Regions from separate parts of the Homo sapiens genome. Here all the other regions are linked to region 1. Evidence: fine-mapped expression QTL. A gene starts in region 1. Each other region holds a variant in brackets. All regions are shown on one strand. Distances are between the middles of the regions. Region 1 holds the start of UBXN2B (UBX domain protein 2B). Region 2 overlaps FAM110B (family with sequence similarity 110 member B). Region 3 holds the start of CYP7A1 (cytochrome P450 family 7 subfamily A member 1). Region 4 overlaps FAM110B (family with sequence similarity 110 member B).

The links. PIP is the estimated chance that this variant, and not a neighbour inherited with it, causes the effect.
Region 2: its variant is the best candidate, but not a certain one, in a credible set for the expression of UBXN2B in whole blood (TOPMed, PIP 0.61).
Region 3: its variant is the best candidate, but not a certain one, in a credible set for the expression of UBXN2B in regulatory T cells (Bossini-Castillo 2019, PIP 0.63).
Region 4: its variant is the best candidate, but not a certain one, in a credible set for the expression of UBXN2B in whole blood (TOPMed, PIP 0.86).

Annotation. Positions count from the first base shown.
Region 1 is chr8:58,407,643-58,413,806 of GRCh38, forward strand. UBXN2B (UBX domain protein 2B) reads left to right here and starts at 3,719. Exons shown (of 8, transcript NM_001077619.2): 1 at 3,719-3,827. The coding sequence starts at 3,744. RefSeq lists enhancers at 3,715-3,774, 3,785-3,834, 4,115-4,164.
Region 2 is chr8:58,083,214-58,089,377 of GRCh38, forward strand. The region is part of intron 3 of FAM110B (family with sequence similarity 110 member B); the gene reads left to right. Among named protein-coding and RNA genes, the nearest start is that of FAM110B, 92 kb to the left of the region's middle. The variant A/G (reference allele first, on the strand shown) is at 3,382.
Region 3 is chr8:58,499,828-58,505,991 of GRCh38, forward strand. CYP7A1 (cytochrome P450 family 7 subfamily A member 1) reads right to left here and starts at 336. Exons shown (of 6, transcript NM_000780.4): 1 at 192-336. The coding sequence starts at 271. It also overlaps the pseudogene PPIAP85. RefSeq lists a silencer at 1-214, a promoter at 312-2,214 and an enhancer at 546-767. The variant C/CT (reference allele first, on the strand shown) is at 3,599.
Region 4 is chr8:58,116,120-58,122,283 of GRCh38, forward strand. All of the region lies in intron 3 of FAM110B (family with sequence similarity 110 member B), which reads left to right. Among named protein-coding and RNA genes, the nearest start is that of FAM110B, 120 kb to the left of the region's middle. RefSeq lists an enhancer at 1,985-2,558. The variant A/G (reference allele first, on the strand shown) is at 3,369.

The DNA of each region.
Region 1 (6,164 bases):
CAAACGTATTAATACATACCTGTGTAACTACCACCACAATCAAGTTATAAAACACTTCTGTCACCTCAAAAAGTTCCTACATGTCCTACAATTGGGGAACTGAATCCTTACTCCAAAAGACAGCCCCAAGCTACCACCAGCTTTTAGTCATTAAAGGTGTTGCCTGTTCTAAAATTTCATATAAATTAAATCAGACAATATTTACTCTTTCGCACCTGGCTTTTTTTACCCAAGATAATATCTTTGAGATTCATTCAAGACATGTGAATCCATAACTTCTTCCTTTTTACTATTGAGTAGTATTCCATTGTATGATTTATCAAAATTGTATCCATTCATTGGCTGATGGACATTTGGATTGTTTCCAGTTTACAGGCTATTACAGATAAAGCTTCTATGAACATTTGAGTTGAAATACTTTATAAATGTATACTTATATCCCTCTTGGGTCAATATTTAAGAGTAGAATTGCTGGTTCTTATGATAATGGAATATTTAACATTAGAAGAAACTGACAACCTCTTTTCCAAAGTGGCTGTACCATTCTAGGACCCACTAGCAGTGTATGAGAGTTCCATGCAGAAAGCCAAGGCAACAGCTACTCGGGAGGCTGAGGTGGGAGGATTGCTCTAACTAGACAGATTGAGGCTGCAGTGAGGCGTGATTGCACCACTGTACTCCAGCCTGGACAACAGAGAGAAACCCTATCTCAAAAAATAAATAAATAAAAATAAAGAGCCTGGGCAAATATAGTCACCTTGTTCGTTTTCCTTCTTTCAGATATCACAGACCTGTACTGCCTGTTGCTCAATGCCTTAAAACTGTTGTTTTTAGTTGTTAAGAGTGGGAGGACAAGTCCAACATCAGGTATACTGTCATGGCCAGCAGCAAAATCCACTTTGCGAACATCTTAAGAAATATGATGCCTGACTCCCACTCTATACCAATTATTAATAAATCTGAGTACCTGGAGACGAGAGAGAAGAGGTGATTCTAATGTACAAGAATGTTAGAGAATCACTGGCTCAGAGGATTCCATCCCCAACCTAAGGCAAGATCCTTCAGAATCTGTCTCAAGCCTCCATTCTACATCTGTCTCCTCCCCACCATTCCATAACCATCTTTTGTCATTTCTAAGTTGCAACCATATAGCAATTTGCTGACATGAATATAATATTTTAAATATCAGTGTCTTTGTAAATATCTTTGCCTTTACCAAGATTCTTTCTGGTCTAATACTTCTACTGGAAGTACTTTCCTTCAACACTCAGCTAAAATGTCTTTGGCTCTATGAGGCATTTCTTGTTAAAGAGCCCGAGATTTCTAGGGCAGAATCTGATGTTAAGAGAGTATCAGGAAAACAAGTGCAGTTTAGTATTTGGCACTGCCATTTACTACAGGGTGAAGTTAGTCTTCATCATCTGGTTTCCTCGGGTATAACAAGATAATCATAACTACCTGGTAGAGGGATAAATGAAATTACACAGGGAATGCACAGCTGGGGGAGAAAATTTTCTCCTTTACTCTCTCAGAGTCTCCAGCTGGGTCCAAGAATTAAACGGACACAAAACAGATTAACAGGGAAAAAGCATACAAATTTTATTTAATAAAACTTTACGTATAAGTGGGTGTCCTCACAGGAAAATAAACACCCGAAGAAGTGGCTAGGCCTAAGTGCTTATATACTAGGTTGAACAAAGAGAGGCAATCGTGGAAGAGTATCTAGGAAGATACTGGTTAGTTTAACAATATCTGTACAGATGTTTCTCGGCCTCAACTCCCCTTCTCTGGTGATGAGTATCTTTCCTCTTGGTATAGGGAGGGCATCTATCACATGGTAGTTTCTTTTCCTGCTTTCAGGAAGAAAAGGTCAGAGTGCTCTTCTTGCACCTGCTGTTTATCAAATGCTTTTTTTTGTTTTTTGTTTTTTGTTTTTAAGACGGAGTCTCTCTGTGACACCCAGGCTGAAGTGCAATGGTGCATCTCTGCTCACTGCAACCTCTGCTTCCCGGGTTCAAGCAATTCACCTGTCTCAGCCTCCCAAGTAGCTGGGACTACAGGCACGCGCCACCACGCCCAGCTAATTTTTGTATTTTTAGTAGAGACAGGATTTCACCACGTTGGCCAGGCTGGTCTGAAACTCCTGACCTCAAGTGATCCGTCTGCCTCGGCCTCCCAAAGAGTTGGGATTACAGGCGTCAGCCACGACGCCCAGCCTCAAATGCCTTTATACATCAAAACGATCAGTATGCCAAAGCTCGGGCGGCAAGCTGTCGACTCCAGCACCTAGCATGGTGCACACAGCAGATACCAACGGAGTATTTCCCCTCACATGGCTCACATTTCCTTTGTAACCCTCCCAAGCAAAGCTCTACTGCAAGCTGCATCTTACCCGTTTACATGTCTCTTTTCCCTACTAGACTGAGTTTCATAATGACTGGGACTATTTCTTTTTACCTTTGCATCCCTTGGGCATAAAAGTGCCTAGGAGGCCAGGCGCAGTGGCTCACGCCTGTAATCCCAGCACTTTGGGAGGCCGAGGTGGGCAGATCATGAGGTCAGGAGATCAAGACCATCCTGGCCAACATGGTGAAACCCCGTCTTTACTAAAAATACAAAAGTTAGCCGGGCATGGCGGCACGCACCTGTAGTCCAAGCTACTCGGGAGGCTGAGGCAGGAGAATTGCTTGAACCCGGGAGGTGGAGGCTGCAGTGAGCCGAGGTCGCGCCACTGCACTCCAGCTTGGGCGACAGAGCGAGGCTCCGTCTCAAAAACAAAAAGTGCCTAGGATAAGAAGACCAGAGTCTAAATCAATTTCAGTTGAATGACGAGGGCTTGATAGTCTCGAGATCTGCTTTTTTTCTTTTTTGAGACGGATCCTCCCTGTGTCGCCAGGCTGGAGTGCAGTGGCGCGATCTCGGCTCACTGCAACCTCCGACTCCCTGATTCAAGCGATTCTCCTGCCTCAGTCTCCCCAGTAGCTCGGACTACAGGCACGCTCCGCCACGCCCAGCTAATTTTTGTGTATATATATATATATATATGTGTATATATATGTATATATATGTGTATATATATATGTGTGTGTATATATGTGTATATATATATGTGTGTGTATATATATATATATATATATATATATATATATTTTTTTTTTTAGTAGAGAAGGGGTTTCACCATGTTGGCCAGGATGGTCTCGATCACCTCGTCCGCCTCGGCCTCCCAAAGTGCTGGGACTACAGGCGTGAGCCACAGGCCCGGCAGAGTTCTGCTTTTAGCAAATTATTCCAAGCACTTTTTACGGTGTTTTTCACTCTCAGTGCTAATTCACGCTGTGGTGACGATGTACCATCCAATCCTTGATAGGAAAGATCAGAGAATCTGACCAAGACTAGATGGAGAGGTTGCAATTTTTCATCAGATGAAAAATCCAGAGGATGTTTTCATTGTTGAGCTAAATGAATCTGCAAGTCTATGCTGCCCTCTAGGGCGGCCTACAGTGCCTTTAGGCGAGTAGCAGGAGCAACACAAAACTTAACAGAGGTTTCCCTGCGGAGAAACTCCCTTTAAGAAAAAAGGAGAAACCAAAAAGGTGGGCCAGCACCGGAAGCGGGGGCGCGGGTTCGGGTAGCGGGGACGCGCACGCACCTTGCGCGTCTTCGCCCCTCCTGCGGTTGCCAGGCAACCGGCCCCGGAAGTTGCGGCAGGTGCGTCCGCAGCGGGCGCCGCTAGCCAGCGGAAGATGGCGGAGGGCGGAGGCCCTGAGCCCGGCGAGCAGGAGAGGAGGTCTTCCGGGCCGCGGCCTCCGAGCGCGCGGGATTTGCAGGTGAGGCGAGGAGCCGGGGGAGGGAGCGCGGCGGTGGACGCGGGCTGGTGACGGCGCGGGCTGGTGCGAGTTGGAGGCCACCTCTGGCCTCGGCGGAGCCTTTCCCCGACCCCGTCTGGGGATAGAATCCGGCGCCCGGTCTCCCGATGTCGGGTCTTGACACTGTGGTGGTCGTGAACACAAGTGCCCAAGCCTCCAGCGCTGGTGCTTTGTCTCCCTTCCACCCCACGTATGATGTAAAAATAGCTATTCGTTTAGAATGACATTTTGCGGGGTCAGTTGGTCGGTTCACGGGTTGATGCTTCCTTCTTGAGACTTACTCCAGAAGAAAGGTTACTGTGGCCGCAGGGAAGTAGACAGTCACCTGAACAGTAATGATACGTGATTTGTTCTTTTTTGTCTTGGATGCTATTTCTGACTTGCTTACTTAAATATAAAAATGGTTCCATTTTATCAGGTAGGTTTTTCTTTTAAAGGGGTGAAGGAAAGCGATGCACTCTATGCCCATACAGCCTAGTTGTCTAAGCTGTGGTCTTTAAAACATTGCACTGAAGAAACTGGGAAATAAAATTTCGTAATGTTGTGTAGGACACTAGTATTAGTTAGCTAAATAGTAGCGCACCAAATCCCGTTTTATCAGATACTAACGCCACTTTTCTCATTTTAGGCGTTTTTGTGTCTCATTATAAGATTATTGATAAAAATTTGACAAGTAAATATCAGTAAGGAGATACTAAGGAGAATCTTGGTAGAACAGTTTTACTGTATTACTTTACAACCACACTTCATTCTAATGTGAACAAACCACCATCCATTGTAACATACTGCTGAGCTTTGCGAATGTGGAAATAAGGACATCAAATCCTTAGTCGGTGCTGAACTCTATTGATGGGTAGGTATGTAAGTGTAAAAGACAGTTCTACCTTTTGGAAGCCTACAGATTTCTTCGGAGAAATAGGGTATGAATACTTAGCATAACATTTTAAGATGGAGTATGATTGGGTGCCAAAATAAGCAGTGCATAAAGCGAAGAATTTGGAGGCTGGAGAGATCAGTGTAACATTAGGAGGTGAACTTAATGTAGAATAGTTCCAGCTCCCATAGTTGGTTCAGTAGTAGTAAACAGTATCAAGGGATAGGAAGCTATTGTGTACCTCATCTTTCCTATTATAAACCCACATCACTAAGAGGCAGCATGGAGTTAGTAGTCCCACCAATTTTGGTTTGCCTCTTAGTCCTGCTACTTAGTAGTTTTGTGAACTTAGGAGAAATGTCTTAACCTGTCTGATCCTGTGTCTTCATTTGTAAACTGAGGAAGGTCAGGGTGCTGGTGGTGGTGTAAGGATTAAATAATGTTATAAAGGGCCTATGCAAAATTCCTACATTATCCTGGCTCAGTTGTTGCTGGGCAAATATTTGATTCCTTTTTCCTCAGGAGAAAGATGCTATAACTTTCCCTGGCTAGTCAATTCTAATATCATTAAAGTTAATAGAGTGTGTAACTTAATGTCCTTTCCCTAATTTAAATCCATTTCTTCTTTTTATGTGAAAAGTGAGAACAGCTTGCTTAATGACCACCTGATTCTTGGCAAATTGTTTGCAGTCTTAATCCAGTGGATCAAAGTACGATTAATGTTTGGAGATACTCTGGTAGATGTTGCTAATTGTGAGAATGCCTTCATTTCCACCCTAAGTTATGATGGGGATTTTTTTTTTCATCTCCTGTCTACTTGTTGTAGGTTAGGGCAGTAGGAAGATAACTGATTTCTTTATGAATGTGATTTGGTGTATCAAGTACAGTATCTAAGTATTGATAATCTTTCCTTTAGAACTTAATATGAATGTGAAGAACTTGCAAAGAAACTTGAAAACAGCCAAAGGGATGGCATATCAAGAAATAAAGTATGTATCAAAAGTTTAAAAGAATTAAATAATGTTCTTCCCAAATGGTACCTTGGATATTGATTATTTATAGATTATCTTGTTACCGTTTAATCTAGACATGCTTTTCTTAAGAGTTACGCAGTTCGTGCAGCTTTCAGTAGATATTTCTTACTTCCCTAACAGCTTGCTCTAAGAGTCTTTCAGAGTGAGTAAAGGGGCAACATATTACCAATTGGAACAAGCAGAATTACCCCTGAGTAAGTGTATCTTAGCTGCCATGCAGTGTAGGGTTTGTCAGCATCTGAATCAGGAGGGAGTGTTCCAGGTACCACCAGAGAAAAGCTGCATAGTTGCTTCCCAAAAGGCCTCCCAGCCCTGGGAGCCCCCAGGTTACAAACTGCAGACTCGGAAATGTTTTTTTGCATATCAGAGTAGATTTTCATAGCTCCCTTC
Region 2 (6,164 bases), 320 kb before region 1:
GGGGAGACACAGTCTATTGCTGGAGAAAGAAAGGCAAAAATGAAGTCAGAAACAAAAGAGGAGAAGAAACAGAAGAAACTGGGTTATTTATGTTTAGTTGTAGTTGAACATTATGGTGCAGAATGGTAAGAACTTGGGTGAAACTTTAAACTAGTCAAAGTAAGGAATAATCAAGGCGTAATTAGCTTTATTCAAAGGCTGCTTGAATTTGGTCTCCTCAACTGCGTTTAAAATAGGGTTTTGTTTCTAGAATTCAGATTACATAGTTTATTTATTCATTTTTTAAATTTTGCTCAAATTGATTGTTCCCTGTGGACTCACAGATTCAATATTCAGAGATTCAATTATTTGTGATTGTCTCCACGTTCACTACTTGTGTTAATTCCGCTATTTCGGGGAAGTGGCACCTTTAAAAGCCCACACTCCAGGGCCAATGAAGAATACAGAATGCAGGCCACTCCCACCATCCACGCCTCCCCTGGGCTTCGTGTTCTGTATGTTAATTCTCTCATCATTTGCTGTTCCATTAAAAATTACGTATCCAGTGTCTAGTTTGCCTGGGGGTGAAATGGGGATTAAGAACCTTTCCCACCTTGAGACACTGACATTCTTGTAAAGGGATAAACACTCTATATTTGAAAAATCATCCTAAGAAGAACAGTAACTAGTAGTGCTGGAGTTGGAAGTGAAGAAAATGTGAGGAGATCCAAGAAAATGATGAATTTTAGGCAGAACTGAAGCTCTGGGTACATAGGAGAGTACGGCTAACTCCTGGTTGATCCGGATCAATGGCATATGAGAGAATCCACCACAGAACTGTGTGTATTTGAATCTTTGGTTCAAACTAGCTCACCATATTAGTGGTCTGTCCTGTGTATCTTCAGAAGTTACAAGGCTGTCTTTCCTGAGGTCAGCAGGCTACTGAATTGTGCTTATGACCAAGACCTTGCTGGCTGCCATCTGAATCATATATAGTGGAGGAAAAAATGAGTCAGTAGAAGGTATGGATGGTGTACACCTCGCTAAAGAGAAGATGAACTATAATATTTTCAAGCATCATTCTAGTGATTGTTGGCCTATAAGTAGTGTTTGATTTTAATTTCATTTCTAATTTATGTGGTTCTATAAAATTCTCTATGTTTTCCTTCCTTCCAGCAGTGGACTTGAATCTCCATTTTCCTTTTTTTTTTTTTTTGAGACGGAGTCTCACTCTGTCACCAGGCTGGAGTGCAGTGGTGTGATCTTGGCTCACTGCAGCCTCCGCCTCCCTGGTTCAAGCAATTCTCCTGCCTCAGCCTGCCAAGTAGCTGGGACTACAGGCACTCGCCACCATGCCCAGCTAATTTTTGTATTTTTAGTAGAGACAGGGTTTCACCATGTTAGCCAGGATGGTCTCGATCTCTTGACCGTGTGATGCTCCCACCTCAGGCGCTCAAAGTGCTGGGATTATAGGCATGAGCCACCGTGCCTGGTGAAATCTCCGTTTTTTAAACATGATTTTTCACTGGAAGTCTTACCACCATGTACACCTTAAACTCTCCATCCCCAGATAGAATGGGTTGTGAAGCTTCACTCTTTACCTATTCATGGGGATTATGTCCCTAGAGGCTGCTGTCAGGTGCCAGCAGGGATTTTATGGATCATTACCAAGGAAATGATGGTAAATGTCCCCACCGAGTGGCATTGGTTTCTAAGCATAGTACAAGGAGTAGGTTGCACCCTGCACCTCCCAGGACTTTCCCTCTGGACACTGTTTTTACAGAGGGTGTTAGAGTGGCTACACCGAGGCACAGGATGCTAGGGCAGTCAGAGTAGGGATTGACGCATCACTCTCTGAACCTGGCAATTGGCATCAAAAACAGGAGAAAAAGCAGGCTTCGTTTTCATTTACTCTCCTAGTTGTATTTGTGATTCAGCATTCCATGCTGTATTGGTAAAGGGAAGAAATTACTTTTTGTGGGGGTCATGCCCCCTTCCTTTAATCAACTGAAGAGTCTTGTAAAGCTGATGCACATGTAGGCAGGCATGGTGGCCCACACCTATAATCCCAGCCCTTCAGGAGTCCGGGGCAGGCAGATTACTTGAGGTCAGAAGTTAAAGACTAGCCTGGCCAATATGGTGAAACCCCATCTCTACTAAAAATATAAAAATTAGCCAGATGTGGTGGCGGGTGCCTGTAATCCCAGCCACTCGGGAGGCTGAGGCAGGAGAATTGCTTGAACCCGGAAGATGGAAGTTGCAGTGAGCCGAGATCGCACCACTGCACTCCAGCCTGGGTGACAGAACGAGACTCTGTCTCAAGAAAACAAACAAAAAGTTGATACACTTCTAGATTTAATTTAAGATTTTGACCATTGGCCTATGAGCCAGAGAGATGTTTGTATTGAACTTGGGCCTGAAAAAGTTTCACATTCATTTTTAGAGTATAAGGAATGCTGGAATACCTCTGGCACATTGATTTATGAAACATTTTAAGATCATGTTCACTTTCTTCTCCACCAGATATCTATTTTCTCTACTTTGAACCCCCCACAGATGACCCTGTTATGAAGTGTGCTGCATATGAAGTTTTTGCGGGGTGGTTTATCCCCCACTGCAGTTCTTGGGCACTGGCCATTCACACACGGAGCTCTAGCCTTTAGGGGCCAGTGCTCAATTAAAAAATCAATGGAATTAATATAAACCTGAGTAAATTATCAATGGGAAAGTATGATTTAGCTTACAAAATTAATTTGTAACTTTCCAAAATGTTTTCTGATTGGTGAAGCCAACTTCCCCAGAAGTAAAACTCCTTACGACCTCAACTCAATACCTGATACCTGGTTCTCACTTGACTGGCTTATAGGAGGGGCCTAATAAATGTGGCTAAAATGAAATTAACGCTGTGTTCATCACCTATGTACAGTGGTCATGTTCATAACCGAATCTGCAGCTCTTCTAAGGTAGTCTCCAAGAGGGTTAAGCCAAAGTAAATTGCCTCATTTGGAGCCTTTGAGAGCATCTCTCTTACTTTTAGCAGTCTTTGGTCACTACACATTAGATTAAGATGCTAAGTATAATAAAGAAAAAATTATATGAATATATGACTTTAAATCTACCATTAAGAAACAGGAAATTAAGAGATCGCTTGAAGACATTTTATGCCAAATCTGCAACAATTTTGAATTTCTTATTATATTTTATTAATAATACTTCATGTTATACATGTTTATAGTATCTTATTAATTTTAAACTCCACTATGTTTAAAACCATTTTATGATTATTAGACCCTTTCATTCAGTCAGTATCTTGTTTTTCAGACGACTGAAACCTGGCTTTGAAGTGCTACCTGAAGTGTTCTTAAGTCTCATACTGAGAAGTCACCTCTTTATTGGCACTTA[A/G]CGTTACGCATAAATAGGACCACTGTGCACTTCTTAGGACATTCCACAGAGAGTGCTACTTCTGTTGTAAATTTGTGCAATATTGCTCTCATATGTAAAATACTCTACAAACTGCCACCTTTGCAAAGTTCCCAGTCCCCTCACTTGTCAGTGATGGATGGTGATGCTTTAAGGGTCCATTTCAATAGAGGTATATTTCCCCCAGTAAAGACAAAGGAATGTTAATGGGCTAATAGCTCCGTACTGTCATGACTGACTTATGTGATATTGCACAAGGTGAGGACAGTGGAGCTGGTATTTTGTTTGGCATTCACCAGGCACTTCAGCCCTTTAGTGCATCATCTCCCTTCATTCTCACAACAGATAGTTGATGGGACACATAGCACGTGATCATGGGGCTAGATCTGAGCTCACACCATACACCGTCTGGTTGCAGATCTGTGCCTCTAAACAGTCTTGCCAAGTGTCCAGTGTGCTTTAGGTGCCAGGTGCTTCACAGACTTCGGAGGTAAATATTTTCCTACTATTTAGAAGTCATGTTTTTTCAGCACATTAGATTTTCTGAAGGTTTCTCTGAACAAAAGAACTTGCTGCAGATGCCAACCAAGATTCCTCCTCAGGGGTGTTTACCATGTAGTAGTGCCAAAGAAACCAGCGCTGTGCGTCACCTTCTACCTTATCTAGAGCCCTGGAGAGGTCACCTATCTGTCTGTGACTTAGATCGGTGGGCTTCGCTTCCAGTTCTCTGATTTAAGGCTTCTGTTAGAGCAGCAGCTGTAGCAATTTGCTTTTTGAATAGGCATATACATTTCACAAGCACTTTCACTTCAGCGGCCTGGAGGGGTGGAGTAAACTGTTATATCAGCTTCATAGATGAGGCAACAGAGCATCAGAGAAAAGGGACCTCTCAAAGCTACATGGGTCATAACTGGAAAAGCCAGGATACAAGCTCCTCTGCCTCATTCGCCATCACAACTCCAAAACTTGACCTCTCTCTCTGGGGCCATCTCCTCATTGGCTCATCGGCAGAATGAATGAATTGAACTCCAGCAGTGATTTTCAAACCCTGTTCCCTGGAGTATTAGTGGTTTCAAGGCTGATGGGGATTGAGATTTGGGTCTCTCCTTTAGCCAAAACCACTCTGCATTCATCTATTTTGCATACCAATGTTCCACATTGTCTTTAAAGAAAGCTTCTGTAGTAAGAAAATACTTTGAAGATTACTGATCCTCAAAGTTTTTATTACATTCTAAACTTTAACCTTTAGGGGCCAGTGCCCAGTTTAAAAATCAATTGAACTAATATAAACATGAGTAAATTATCAATGGGAAAGTAAATTGGTCTTACAAAACTAATTTGTAACTTTCAAAAATGTTATCTGTTGGGTGAATCCAAGAGGCTTCCCCAGAAGTAAAACTCTCTAGGACCTCAACTCAATACCTGATACCTGGTTCCCACTTGACTGGCTTATAAGAGGGGCCCAGTAAATGTTGCTAAAATGTAATTAAAAGAAAAAAATTTATTTTGATAGTAGTTTTAAGTAACACACAGACTATCAAAATGTATTTATTTTACACCTGTTGTAGTATGCTAGGATTATAAATATTCTACAATTAATTTTAAAGGACAATCACAATTTTAGTTTCTCCATTGAACTTTATTTTGCTTCATTCATATATATATTCAGTGAGTCTTCCCTCTTACCCAAGTCTCTCCATAAATGTCTTCATTATTTTACTGACTTGATGAATTCCCAGTTCCAAATGACGCTTCAAGTCATATATCTAGTTTAAAACTCCTGCAGTAAAATAACATTTCTAGACAGAATTCTGAATTCAACGAAATGTGTTTCTTTCTCTATAATACATTGTCTGTGTTATCTTCATTCTTGGAAGAGATTTGAGTAGAAGGATTGTATATGCTTCTTTTTATGGGATGCTATGAATATGAATACTTATTTAACAAACCAAATTATATTTCTCTCATTCCCCAAACTTTAGAAAGTTCTATGATTTCAGTTGATGGCACACACTAGAATTTGTGTAGAAGTTACAAGGAAATGGAGCCGCACTTGAGAGTTGCACCTTCATCTTGGGTTCAGCAGTGTCCTTAGAGTGAAAAGAGGGTGGAGGAGTTCTAACTGCATTCCAAGACCAAGTGATATTCTGTCCAAAAACTATCAAGGACAGACTTCTCTGCTTTTAATACTAGCTTTTTGATCAGAGGGCTCATGGGGTGCAACATGTACACCAACTTGCTGCCTTGTAAACTTGATCCTTTGTAAATCTGTGACATTTTTCCTTGTTACAAGAGTTTTATATTCTCATGTATATAAATACTGCCTTTGACAGGATAAGAGACTAGTGCCATGAATATTCCTTTAGCAGTGGTAAAAACTCTGCAATAAAGCTTTGACGTTTTAAGATGACAATCAAATGGTCCAACAAAGGGCAGGAGAGGCTAAAGTAAAAACCTTCACAGATGAATGGTTTTATTTCACATCAACTCTATGGTCTTAATGCTGCCTATCGGAGGCACATTTTTGCATCAGCCACATGAATTGGTGAACTTTAGTGTATATGGATCATAAAGTATTTCTTCACTTGAAGGTCATCTGTGGCTAAGCTGTAATTTCTGCAGTTCTGTGAAAATTAGCACTCTCTATCAACCTTGTCATTTGAATTGGGGATCTTTATGTAGATGTTTGATGCTTCTATTTCACTGCTGCTTTCCCTCTGCTATAGTGCTTAAAACAAATGGTGTCAGATTCACTCTAATCTAGT
Region 3 (6,164 bases), 92 kb after region 1:
GTCATATGTCTTGTGAGATATAGTAAAAAAGATATTACTTTAAAAATTCAAATCAAATTTTTCATTTAAAAAATAAGGAAGATAATGCTAATATGTGTAAGTATAGAAAACCAAATTTACTGTATAAAAATGAAGGTAAAAAAATTAAATGGATGAATCAAAGAGCAATTTAAAGATAAAACATTACTTACCTTCTCCTAATTCCAAGAATAAGCCATAGACAACAGCATGCTGCTATAGCAATCCCCCAAATCAAAGATGTGGTCATCATTTTGCAAATCTAGGCCAAAATCTCTGAGGAAGAAAATCTCTGATTAGAAAGGGAAGGATGCCACTGAAAAGAGACTCAAGCTAGGCTTTTTATATACATAGTATCCAGATCCATTAACTTGAGCTTGGTTGACAAAGCAAACAATTAGCCATTTGTTCATTCTATTAGAAAAAAAAAAGTGGTAGTAACTGGCCTTGAACTAAGTCCACAGGTATCAGAAGTGGTTCCAAAGCAATCAGAGACCTGCAATACTTGATAAGTTGAAGGTCTCTCAAATATATGTTGACTTAACATTCGGACCTGGGGACAACAGCTAATATTAAGAGTTTGGTATGTGTAAAAAGAACAAATAAACCTGTTTAAGATGGGCATAGCTAATAAATACATAAACTATAATCATTTAAAGAAAGATAAGAATGAGTTATTCATCAAGCTTATAATTTGGTCTTGTTAACTTTTAAAGAAGAATTAATTTAGGTGCTTTGCCAGAGAGACGGTGATCAAGTTCAGAGGAAAGAGAACTGGGAAAAACATTTCTGCTGCTTCATGTTTCAGTGCTTTTATAAAATCATAGATATTTTACTACATATAGTAACATGTTACTCACCTAACATCCTCAAGAGAGTATTCTACATAAGTGCATCCTCTAGATAAATATAACTTATTGGAAGCATCAAAATTTTATCTATCATTCTTGTGACTAAAATGTTTATCAATGTTTCTAATTATTAAAGTAATAAATTTCATTTCAAGTAAGTTAAGACTAACTAAAACATATCTTGGTGGAAAGTGAACATCTATTAATAATTTACCTACCATGCTACTCCTTTACTCAGAAGTAACCACTAGTAACAATTTGGCATCTGTTCTTCCAAACTTTATTTCTGTGTACACAAAAATATTAGTTGAGTATTTATTACGTGCCAAGAACTCTTCAAAAGTATTCCAGTTGCAGGCATTAATAAGATAGGCAGATTTCCTAATCTAATGGAGATTCTATTCCAATGGAGAAAGGAGTAATAAAATACATGTTATGAAAAAAATAAAACATGGTATAGAAAGCTATGGGGGAATGAGGACAACTTTAGATATGATGATCAGAGATGGGCTCTCTGAAATTGTGACATTTGAGATCTGAATGACAAGAAGAGACTACTCATGTGAATATCAGAAGGAAGGATATTCCAGGAAGAGGAAGCAGCAAATGCAATGTCTTGAGTCAAGGATCAACTTGGTGAGTCTAAGAACCAAAAAGAAGGATGTATCCTACTGAAGCAGAGTGAATGAGAGTTCACAGAATTAAGACAAAAGAAGGTAGGCAACAGTACTGTGTGTGTATATATATGTATATAAACACACACACACATACACCCACAGTATTCTCTATATTTATACATGTGTGTATCTATATGTGTGTATAAATAATTATATTGAATATGTGCTTAATCTTCCATTGGATAAATGTACTATAATTTATTTAACTGATTTCCTATTGATGGATATGTGGGTTGTTTCCAGTTTTGGCTATAGATGCCATAGATTTATTTCATGTGTTTTTTGTTTTTGCCTGTTTAAACAGAGATCACACATTTTTTGTGTGTAATTTATCACCATAAATATTAATATCAATCATTGTATGGCAGTACATAGATTTTTCTTAGAATCTAGGTTTTTGGGGGGCTTTGTGCATTTATTTAGACAGGTGGATTTTTAAAAAATTAATATATCTTTTTAAAAATATGGCTTATAGAAAAGCTGATCTTATACATGGACAATCACAGCAAGATATCCCAGTCAGATAAAATGCCAATCTAATATCCAAATAATACAGCCCTTTAGAGTTACTTCTCGGGCAAATGAAGAACAAGCAAATATACAAAAATGGAAAGGAAGTCAGGCATGGTAGTGTGACATGGTTTGGCTGTGTCCCCATCCAAATCTCATCTTGAATTCTCACGTGTTGTGGGAGGAACCTGGTAGGAGGTGACTGAATTATGGGTGCAGTTCTTTCCTGTGCTATTGTCATGATAATGAATAAATTTCATGAGATCTGATGGTTTTAAAAAGAGGAGTTTCCCTGCACAAGCTCTTTTCTTGTCTGCTGCCATGTGAGATGTGCCTTTCTCCTTCCATCATGATTGTGAGGCCTCCCAAGTGATGTAGAATTGTAAGTCCAATAAACCTCTTTCTTTTGTAAATTGTCCAGTTTCAGGTATGTCTTTATCAGCAGCATGAAAATCGACTAATACAGTAAACTGGTACCAGTAGAGTGGGGCACGGCTGAAAAGATAACCAAAAATGTGGAAGCGACTTTGGAACTGGGTAACAGGTAGGGATTGGAACAGTTTGGAGGGCTCAGAAGAAGACAGGAGAATGTGAGCAAGTTTGGAACTCCCTAGAGGCCTGTTGAATGACTTTGACCAAAATGCTGATAATGATATGGACAACGAAATCTAGGCGGGGGTGGTTTCAGATGGAGATGAGGAACTTTTTGGGAACTAGAGCAAGGGTGACTCTTGTTATGTTTTAGTAAAGAGACTGGCAGCGTTTTGTCCCTGCCCTAGAGATTTGTGGAACTTGGAACCTAAGAGAGATGATTTAGGGTATCTGGCAGAAGAAATTTCTAAGCAGCAAAGCATTCAAGAAGCAACTTGGGTGTTGTTAAAGGCATTCAGTTTTTTTTGTTTTTTTTTTTTTTTTTGAGACAGAGTCTTACTCTGTTACCAGGGCTGGAGTGCAGTGGTGTGATCTCGACTCACTGCAACCTCCGCCTCCTGGATTCAAACGATTCTCCTGCCTCAGTCTCCCAAGTAGCTGGGATTAAAGGCACCCATGACTATGCCCAGCTAACTTTTTGTATTTTTAGTAGAGACAGGGTTTCACCATGTTGGCCAGGCTGGTCTCGAACTCCTGACCTCGTGATTCGCCCGTCTCAGCTCCCCAAAGTGCTGGGATTACAGGCGTGAGCCACCACACCTGGCCAGGCCTTCAGTTTTATAAGGGAAGCAGAGCACAAAAGTTTGGAAAATTTGCAGCCTGACAATGCGATAGAAAAGAAAATCTCATTTTCTGAGGAGAAATTCAAGCCAGCTGCAGAAATTTGCATAAGTAACAAGGAGCTGAATGTTAATCCCCAAGACCATGGGGAAAATGTCTCCAGGGCATGTCAGAAGTCTTCATGGCAACCCCTCCCATCACAGCCCCAGATTCCCAGGAGGAATGTATAGTTTCTTGGGCCAGGCCCAGGGTCCCCCTGCTGTGTGCAGCCTAGGGACTTGGTGCCCTGTGTCTTAGCACTCTAGCCTGGGCCACATAGACAGACACCAA[C/CT]TTTTTTTTTTTTTTTTTTTTTTAAAGGGAAAGGGTATGGGGGAACCTCTCAGTACAATCTTAGCAACTTCCTGTGAATCTAAAATCATTTTGAAATTAAAAGGCTTCCAAAAATGGTAAATACATGGCTTTGCAGATGCTGATGACACCCGGAGCCCCCTGCTATCAGCCATGGTCAACTCCACTGTATTATCTAACATCTTGGGTCATGCCTTTTTTGAGCTGTTTGCAGACAGAGTTCCAAAGACAGCAGAAAACTTTCATGCTCTGAGCACTGGAGAGAAAGGATTTGGGTATAAGGGTTCCTGTTTTTACAGAATTATTCCAGGGTTTATGTGTCAAGGTGGTGACTTCACATGCCATAATGGCACTGGTGGTAAGTCCATCTACAGGGAGAAATTTGATGACAAGAACTACATCCTGAAGCATGCAGGTCCTGTGTTGTTCATGGCAAATGCTGAACCCAACACAAACGGTTTCCAGTTTTTCATCTGCACTGCCAAGGCTGAGTAGCTGGATGGCAAGCATGTGGTCTTTGGCAAGGTGAAAGAAGTCATGAGTATTGTGAAGGCCATGGAGAGCTTTGGGTCCAGGAAGGGCAAAACCAGCAAGATCACCATTGCTGACTGTGCACAACTCTAATAAATTTGACTTGTGTTTTATCCTAACCACAGACCTTGTGAGAGCACCCCTCCACCCCATTTGCTCACGTTATCCTATAATCTTTGTGCTCTTGCTACAGCTCCTTTGGGTGTTATATATTCCCTATTCCCTTCCATACCTAGCTGGATTGCAGAGTTAAGTTTATGATTATGAAATAAAACTATATAAAGCTAAATAAAAACTAAATAACAACTGTCAAAAAAAAAAAAAACTGTGAAATATATTCACAACCCTCCTCACCCCCTCTCAGAACATCACAAGCTCCTTTCAAATGTAGATTGGTCAGTGTTTATCTAGATTTCCTTTACCCTAATATTTTTACTCCCACACTTACAACCCCTCTTCTATACAACAAAAGCACAGGAAACATACACACCCAGAAAAGCAGAGTCTTAAATATTCATATTTATTCATTTTTCTTATTATACGTAGTTTATGTTTTTCCTTCTCAGGATGTCACTTCTTGCTGCTGTCATGTGTCCACAAATGGTACTTATCACAGCCCAAATGTGCTGCTTTTAATCCAACAGGTGGAAATTCATATGCTTGTTACAGCTGTCAAAACTATTAATAGACTGTAAGGAAATACTAAAAGATTTCCTGATGAGTGAATGGATTTTATGACAACTGGATGTGTTTTTAGCACAGCGCCTGGTGCATCAGTTATTGAATGAATGCTAGCTCAATGGCACGTCCTTTGCCTGCTTTTCTCTTCTCTTTTTTTCGGCTGGTAAAGTTTTATTTATTCTCTTTCTCTATGTCTCTGTCTCACCATCTTTCTCTCTGTGTGTCTCTCTTGTTTCTCTGTCTCTCTCTGTGTCTCACTCTCTCTGTCTCTCTCTGTCTGTGTCACACACACACACACACACACACACACATGCTGTACCTCTACTACATGCCAGGCTCTGAGTCAGCAGTGGAGACAATGTGAGCAAGAAAGCCCTGAGCCCTGGCCCTGTGGAGTTTCCACTGCGTCAGGAGAAAGCGTAAGTGCCCTGACAAAGAAAAGAGGTAAAGTTGCCAGAAAACCTGGCAAAATAAACTGAGTTCTAATAATAAACTAAATTCTAATCCCACCACAACCTGTTAGTTTCCTCTTGTTTACATAGAGTAGTGAAGAGGACCACACTTCCTAAAGTGTGGAAGAAATACTTATTCCGGGCCTCAGAAAATATAAAGCCTGAATCAAATATCTCAACCCCATGAATGGAAATATACAAAACATAGAAGCTCAAACCAGAGGAGTAGAATGTAAAAAGAACAACTAAAACTATGAGCTTATGTAAACCCACTATGGTTCAATGAACATAGAACACACACATCAGTTTGATTGCTTTAAATAAAATGAACTGAGAACATGGCCAAAAAATTGAGTCAAACCAGTTGCTTTCCTGAATTCACAAGTTAAACCACCTCTCTGTAGTGGGACACAGATTGCCTCAATTAAGAAAGCACTTTGCATTTTCCAAGAGCATCACAGAGCTGTACTGAATCAAGACTGTATATGAGGTTTCTAAGTCAGGGCAAAGTAATGGGAGTCTATTGTGGAATGGGCTGGTGAAGTCTTGTCGTGATTAATTTGGGGCTTTCATAATAAACACATTCGAGCCACATTTTCATGAAGCCATAGGGAAAGAAACCAGTTATGGCAAATACAAATATAGTTTTGCATCTTAAATACATGGTTTTGAGATTGTAAATGCCTAGCAGGAGTAGAGAAAAAGAAGGTGTTGACAAATTCTAAAGGAATCATCATAATTTTTACATTCATTTTGAGGTTTTCACATTTTAAAAGCTTCTCTTGTATTTTTCTACTTTAATGAAATAACTAACTTGGGCAGGACAGGTATTTTGACCATGTTAAAGATGAGGAAGTAGAGGCAAGAAGGTTCAGTGGGAAATA
Region 4 (6,164 bases), 290 kb before region 1:
TAACCAATTGGCTGTACTTTTAAAATATATTCAGAAAACAACCAGCTTTCACCACTGCCATCATGGTTCAAACCCCTCGGATCATTGCATTAGCCTGTTAACTGTTTCCTGCTTCTGTTCTTCCCTCTTGCAGTCTTTTCCCAACAGAGCATTCAGAAAGCTCCCTCTAACCCGTGAGTCTGAGCCCTCTCTCCTGGATGCAAAACCTCACAGTAGAGTCCCATTCTCCTTGAAGACAGCCATGGTCCTTGACAGGTTGTGTCCATTATCTCTCCATCTCCTTCCTCCCATGCCAGCCACACCTGTCCTCCAGGCCTCTGCACTTGTCTTTCCCCTAGCATCTCTGTGGTTACTCCTTTACCTTCTTCATAACTTTGCTCAGATATCCCCTTTTCAATGAGGCTTTTCTTATTTGACAGATAGAACAATGCCTGAATAAAGAAGGAGCTAACCCACCTATTTCATATACAAATATGCCAACCCTAATATTCAGACCAGATATATTTCGTAATACTTTTAAATCTTCTGTAACACATCTGTGGAATAAGCCTATTTTGAAGTTCTTGGGAGTCCTATTTCTCCCAGGCACTGAAACTTGAATGTGTCATGATAGTAAACCAAGAGATTATAAATGAATGAACATTCAGTTTCCAGGAAGAGATTAAAAAAAAGACAAGTAAATTACCTTATTTGTTTTGTCCAGAATGTATTCCATTTAAGGCTTATAATTCTCAATTCTTGAGGCTGGAGAACAGATTGTAGAGCATCAGGAATGGTTTGCTAACTCAAAACCATTTCAAGCTTCTTAACGCGATGCACACAGCATTTGGGGGCTGCCTTCAGGAGTATAAGCCTAGCTGCTCCCTCGAGACCTAAAGAAAGCAAGTGAGAAGGTGAGTGCATATCTCAGGATCTGACAGGATGGCTGAAAGCAAAGAGCCTCTATTGTGGCAGGTTTATTTTATAGCATTTTTGTGCCGATCTGTCCAGAATCCCTTAACCGGTGTGAGGGAAAAATCAGTATTATTAGGTAAACCAATTAGGGAATCTCAGTGAGGTATTTTTCTCTGAATCTAATAAAGCAGAAGCTAACTGAGCTCTACCTGAGAACAGTTGATGTGATTCGATGTGGTGCTTTCTTGATGGCAGCTGGACACAGATACTTTATTCTAATTTACATCCCAGTGGGATGACCCATGAACCAGTATTCGAGAAAAGAGCCAGAAGAAAACTGCAGAAAAAGCTTCAGAAACCTCAGCTTTGATACATAAGCACAGAGCAACAGAACTACTGCCAAAAGTGGGGATGGCAAATTTGGGGGAGGCTTTAACCTCTCAGCACCTCAATTTCTTCCTTGGCCACATGGTAGTCATGAGAAGCATCTATAGTGGAGCCAGCCTGCCTTGTTCAAATTCCAACTCCATCTCTCTCTAGCTAAGGTAGAGCGAGGGTTTTCTTGGGTAAAGTATTGAATGCCTTAGCATCTTTGGGCCTCATTTTCTTCATTTGTAAAATGAAGGGTAGTAATAGCCCCTGCCTCATAGAGTCATTGTTAAGAGTTAATATGTTCGTATTTGCAAAATGCCTTAGAGTGGTTCTGGCACATAGTAAGCACGGTCTGAGTGCTATTTCTATAATCATTATTATTATGTAGTATGTGCCTAATGAATATGTACATAAATAAACATAGTCTATAACCAGAAGGCATTTTTGCAATTTCTTTATTTAATTTGCATTAAACTTAATAGAGTGGAGACTTAGTTCTCTGTTAAACTCTTTCAGAAAACTAACGGACATTAAATACAAGACAGCATGTTTAAAATTAAAATTAAGAAGTATCTGTCTTTATAGATAATTATACAACACTGTCAAATCAGCTTCCAGAAAATATCGGAAAGATTCTAGAGTAACATCTTTGGATGTGAAAAAGATAAATCCTGTGTTCACAAATGTCATTAGCTTTATGTTTAGCTTTAAGTTTTAAAAATGTTTACCCCATTGTCATTAATCTCTTTATTGATAATAATGCTATTTCCATAATCCCAAGGGACCCAATTCAATATATTTCTTCTCTTATTTCTCCTTTCTCCACTGACCTTGTTCTGTGACATTACTTTCCAGACATTTGTTGAATGAGCATGGTCTGTCCTGGAAATGCCAATGCAGATTGATACAGCCAGAGATTAAGCCTCAGTCAGGTCTCAAGAGCCAGAAAGCTCTGCAGATTTACTAACCATGAGAATGGAAACTAGCCGCATTCCAGGACATTAGGATTTCACTCTTCCCATCCCAAAACGGGTTATCTTTTTTGAAGGGGGTAGGGGAGACCAAATTTCCGGTTGGGTCTGGGTGCTTACCGGAAGATTAGCGGTGGGAAGTTTCTTCAGACTAGCTTAAGTAGAAGGCTTAATTGCAGATGCTTACTTCTAAGGCAGGGTGGGGCGTGGTACCTGGGGCTGAGCTGCTGCTGCTTCCAAAGTGTCTGTGCTAAGGAGACTGTTTACCTTCAGTGCCTTCACACTTTTAGTTACAAAGCAGCAGCACCTTGTAGCAGCATCAGTTGTGAGCATCTTCCAGGCCACTTATGGATTAAAAACTCCAAAAATCCCCTTTTGAAACCATAAAAGCACAGTTTGAAAAGTACCTCATTCTTAGTGATATAACTTCAGATGTTATTTTGGTGCAGCCTGGGGAACACTGTTTGCCTGAAACAGGTAGCAGTCCTCATAATGATAAGTTTAAAAAGCCACTCAACCATATTCGTGCTGCTGGCCTTACAGTCTCATTTTTAGATTCTTGTTTTAACATTGCCTACAGACATTATTCTTATATTACTTCAAACATTCAGAACTAAAATTATTCATGATTTTCTGAAGAAATGAGATAATGGCATCCTTTAGAAACCAAAAAACAAATACTCTGAAAAGTACCTGTTCACTTGCCCCTTACTGGAGGTGGCTGGACTGAAATCCAGAATGGAGCCAACCCAAAGCAGGCAGCATTCCTGAAGAAAGTTCGTGTGCATGCCCTCCCTTTTCTCCCCTCATAACTTATTTTCTCTTAATTTGAGTTTAGAGGGTAACTTAGTCTGAGCTGCTATAGCAAAATACCTTGGACTGGGTAATTTGTAAACAACAGAAGTTTATTTGCTCAGTTCTGAAGGCTGGAATGTCCAAGTTCAAGGCACCAGCAGATTTGGTGTCTGGTGAGGGCTCCGTCCCCACAGATGGTGACTTCTTGCTATGTCCTCGCATGGGGGAAGGGACAGGCACACCCCCGTAAGCCTCTTTTATAAAAGGGCACTAATCCTATTCATGAGACTGATGCCCTCATGACCTAATCACCACCTAAAGGCTACACTTTTTAAT[A/G]CTGTTGCACTGGGGGTTAGGTTTCAACATGGGAATTTTGTGGGGGACACATTCAGACCATACTAGGGAGAAATAGTGGTGCGTAAATTTATCCTTGTGACTGAAGATCTAATATTCCAAATAACTTGGTTCTAACTGGCAAGGGTACTTATAGTCTTGTTGCAATCACTGTAGGATATATCCAGACCCCTCTGATAGCTTTAGTTCTTCCCACTGACCTGTCTGCAGAGATTCTTCAGGGTTGTACTGCTTCCCAGGCTGGCCTGTGGAAAGAGAGTATATGACCACTCTGCTTGTGGCAGTTCTTTGGTACTGACTGCACTCGGCATGCCGCTAAGCGCTCTCTTCAGATTATCTCATTCTACATCCTCAACAATCTGGTAAGGTTGGTTATTATCATTGCTCTTTTACTATTGAGAAAACCAAGACTCAGGTTTGAGTAAATAACCTGCTTCTGGGAAATGTAGCCAGTAAGCCACAGAGCCCAGGGCCAAGCCAAGGTCGGTCCGACTTCCAAATTCATACCTTCAGTCAACATTTGTACATCCCAGAATCGTGTCCTGGACTTAGTGACTCTGAGGACACCTTCCTCAAGGGCACATGGTTTCTACCTAGAGTGAGGAAATATGAACCACATGGCTGGAGCATATTTAAAGAAGATAGGCAAACTATGTTTGCACATAATTTTTTTTTATTATTTCAAATACCTGGTCCACAGCGTACAGTTTTCTTAATGAGATTGCTTTAGGAATCCCTCTTTATGTAGAAAGAGTGTTTTTCATCTTCCTGATCTAGCCCCTCTCATCTGAATTATCCACTGAACTATCCACTTTTTCATCTTCCTGATCTAGCCCCTCTCGTCTGAATTATCCACTGAATTATCCACTTTTTCGTCTTCCTGATCCAGCCCCTCTCATCTGAATTATCCTGTAGACTGTGGCACACTAAGGAATAATGGAGAATGTAGGAATAAGAGAATAACTCCACCAACAGCCATTATCTACCTGGAGAAATTCCAGGCAGGGCATTTCAGGAAGTACCTCTGGTATTTCAACAGGTGAACATCTTTCTGTGTAATTTATTTTTGTGTTGGAACACGAGCTTATGGATTGCTGGATCCCATCCCAGAAGTGGCTACCCCTCCACTGCAGATAAGAATAAGAGCTCCGAGGGTGGGACTGTCAGCCCATATTGTTGAGGTTTTGATTTATTACCCAAGAGTTGTGTTCTAAAGATTCCCTCATTTAAAGTACATGCCTCTGGGATCCATGAAATTCCCAAGGTGGAGAAACAAGAATGGATGTAACTAGGCTAGATGGAAGACTGGGAGAATAGGTGATAGTTACTGAAAAGCCTGGCAGGGTTGGGGCTGGCATCAGAATCCCCTGAGGCCCATTCCCTCCCAGAGCCAACATCCAAGCAAGGCGGAGTGTCCCCATAAGAAACATGGGAGAAACATGCCACTCCCTTCAGTTACACCCTTTGTTCTTTCAGTCATTTAAATATTTGAATATAAAGGGATGTAACGGTGAATAATGGATGCAGTGATGTCCTCTGGAGCTTGCTCAGTTCCAGTGCAGGAGACAGACAATAAATGTAGATTTTAGTCAGTGGCAAGTTCATGCAGAAAAATCAGCACTGTAATAGGATGAGGCGCGATGAGCCTCCAGATGCTGTGTGGCTGCTAGGTCTGGGGAGGTGCCATGCAAACAGGGAAGCCAGAGGCCCATTGATCTCTGTTGTCCACACGCACCACTGTGGATGCAGCTTCAATGGTCTCACTGATAGAACAACATAATAATGCTTTTGATGTATTCTCCTGTGGGTCTCAGAAGTCTAGTAGAGCTCATGAAAGTAAAGAGAAGTATTTGGGTTTCAGTCAATCTTAGCTTCCCAGATTCCAAGCATCCATATGAGAATGCTTCATTTAGTAAGTTTTGAATCTATGAAATTTACTCTGTACTGTACGGAAAACCTGTAGGAATGTTTTAAACTCATTTTTTGTTTGTCTTTCCCCTTGAATTGCCCAGGGACTATGCCAGATAGCAGAAATTATATAACGTTGGGAGTCTTCATAATTAGTTTACTTTTTAAGTTAATTTTATTATGACAATGTAATATAGCTACACATTCTGCATAGTATCCTTTAACCATGCCTCTTTGCTTATAGACAAAGTCTTCTTTTTATAGAGTTAATGACCTCCTTTTTGTCTTTCGCCGTATTTTCTAATATATCTGGAGTTAGATTATTTTCCCAAATGTTCCAGCATTCCTGCCATATGCCTTTGAATAATATTTCATGTGTGCTCATACAGACCTCTTTCCTGTATCTCTATTCCAGGGTCATTTCAGGGCCAGTTGCCCTCTAAGCTGTTCCAACAGCTGCTGTGCTGTGACTTCTCATCAACAGAATGTGGGAACCGCCTTTGGCTGCCCTTCTGGATGGAATCCCCTCTTTTCTTGGATCTCATATCTCTTTCTTTGTAGGTTTATTCTCTCACCTTACTGAAGCACACCCTCTGTAAGCCTCCTAAGTAAAGGGGCCTGGAAAGTATATTTTTAATCTCTGCATATCTACAAGTATCTTTATTCTATCCTTCTGCTTGAAGAAGGATTCTCTGAGCATAAAACTGTAGGTTAATGATTATTATCTCTTAAAAATAATTTCCCTCAATTTTGAAGACATTAAATGCTCTTTTTAAGTACAGCACCATTTTGGTTCCTGAATGTGCCCAGATTTTTCTCTAGAAGCTTTTAAGATCCTCTCTTTGTCTCTGGTGCTCTGGAATTTTACAG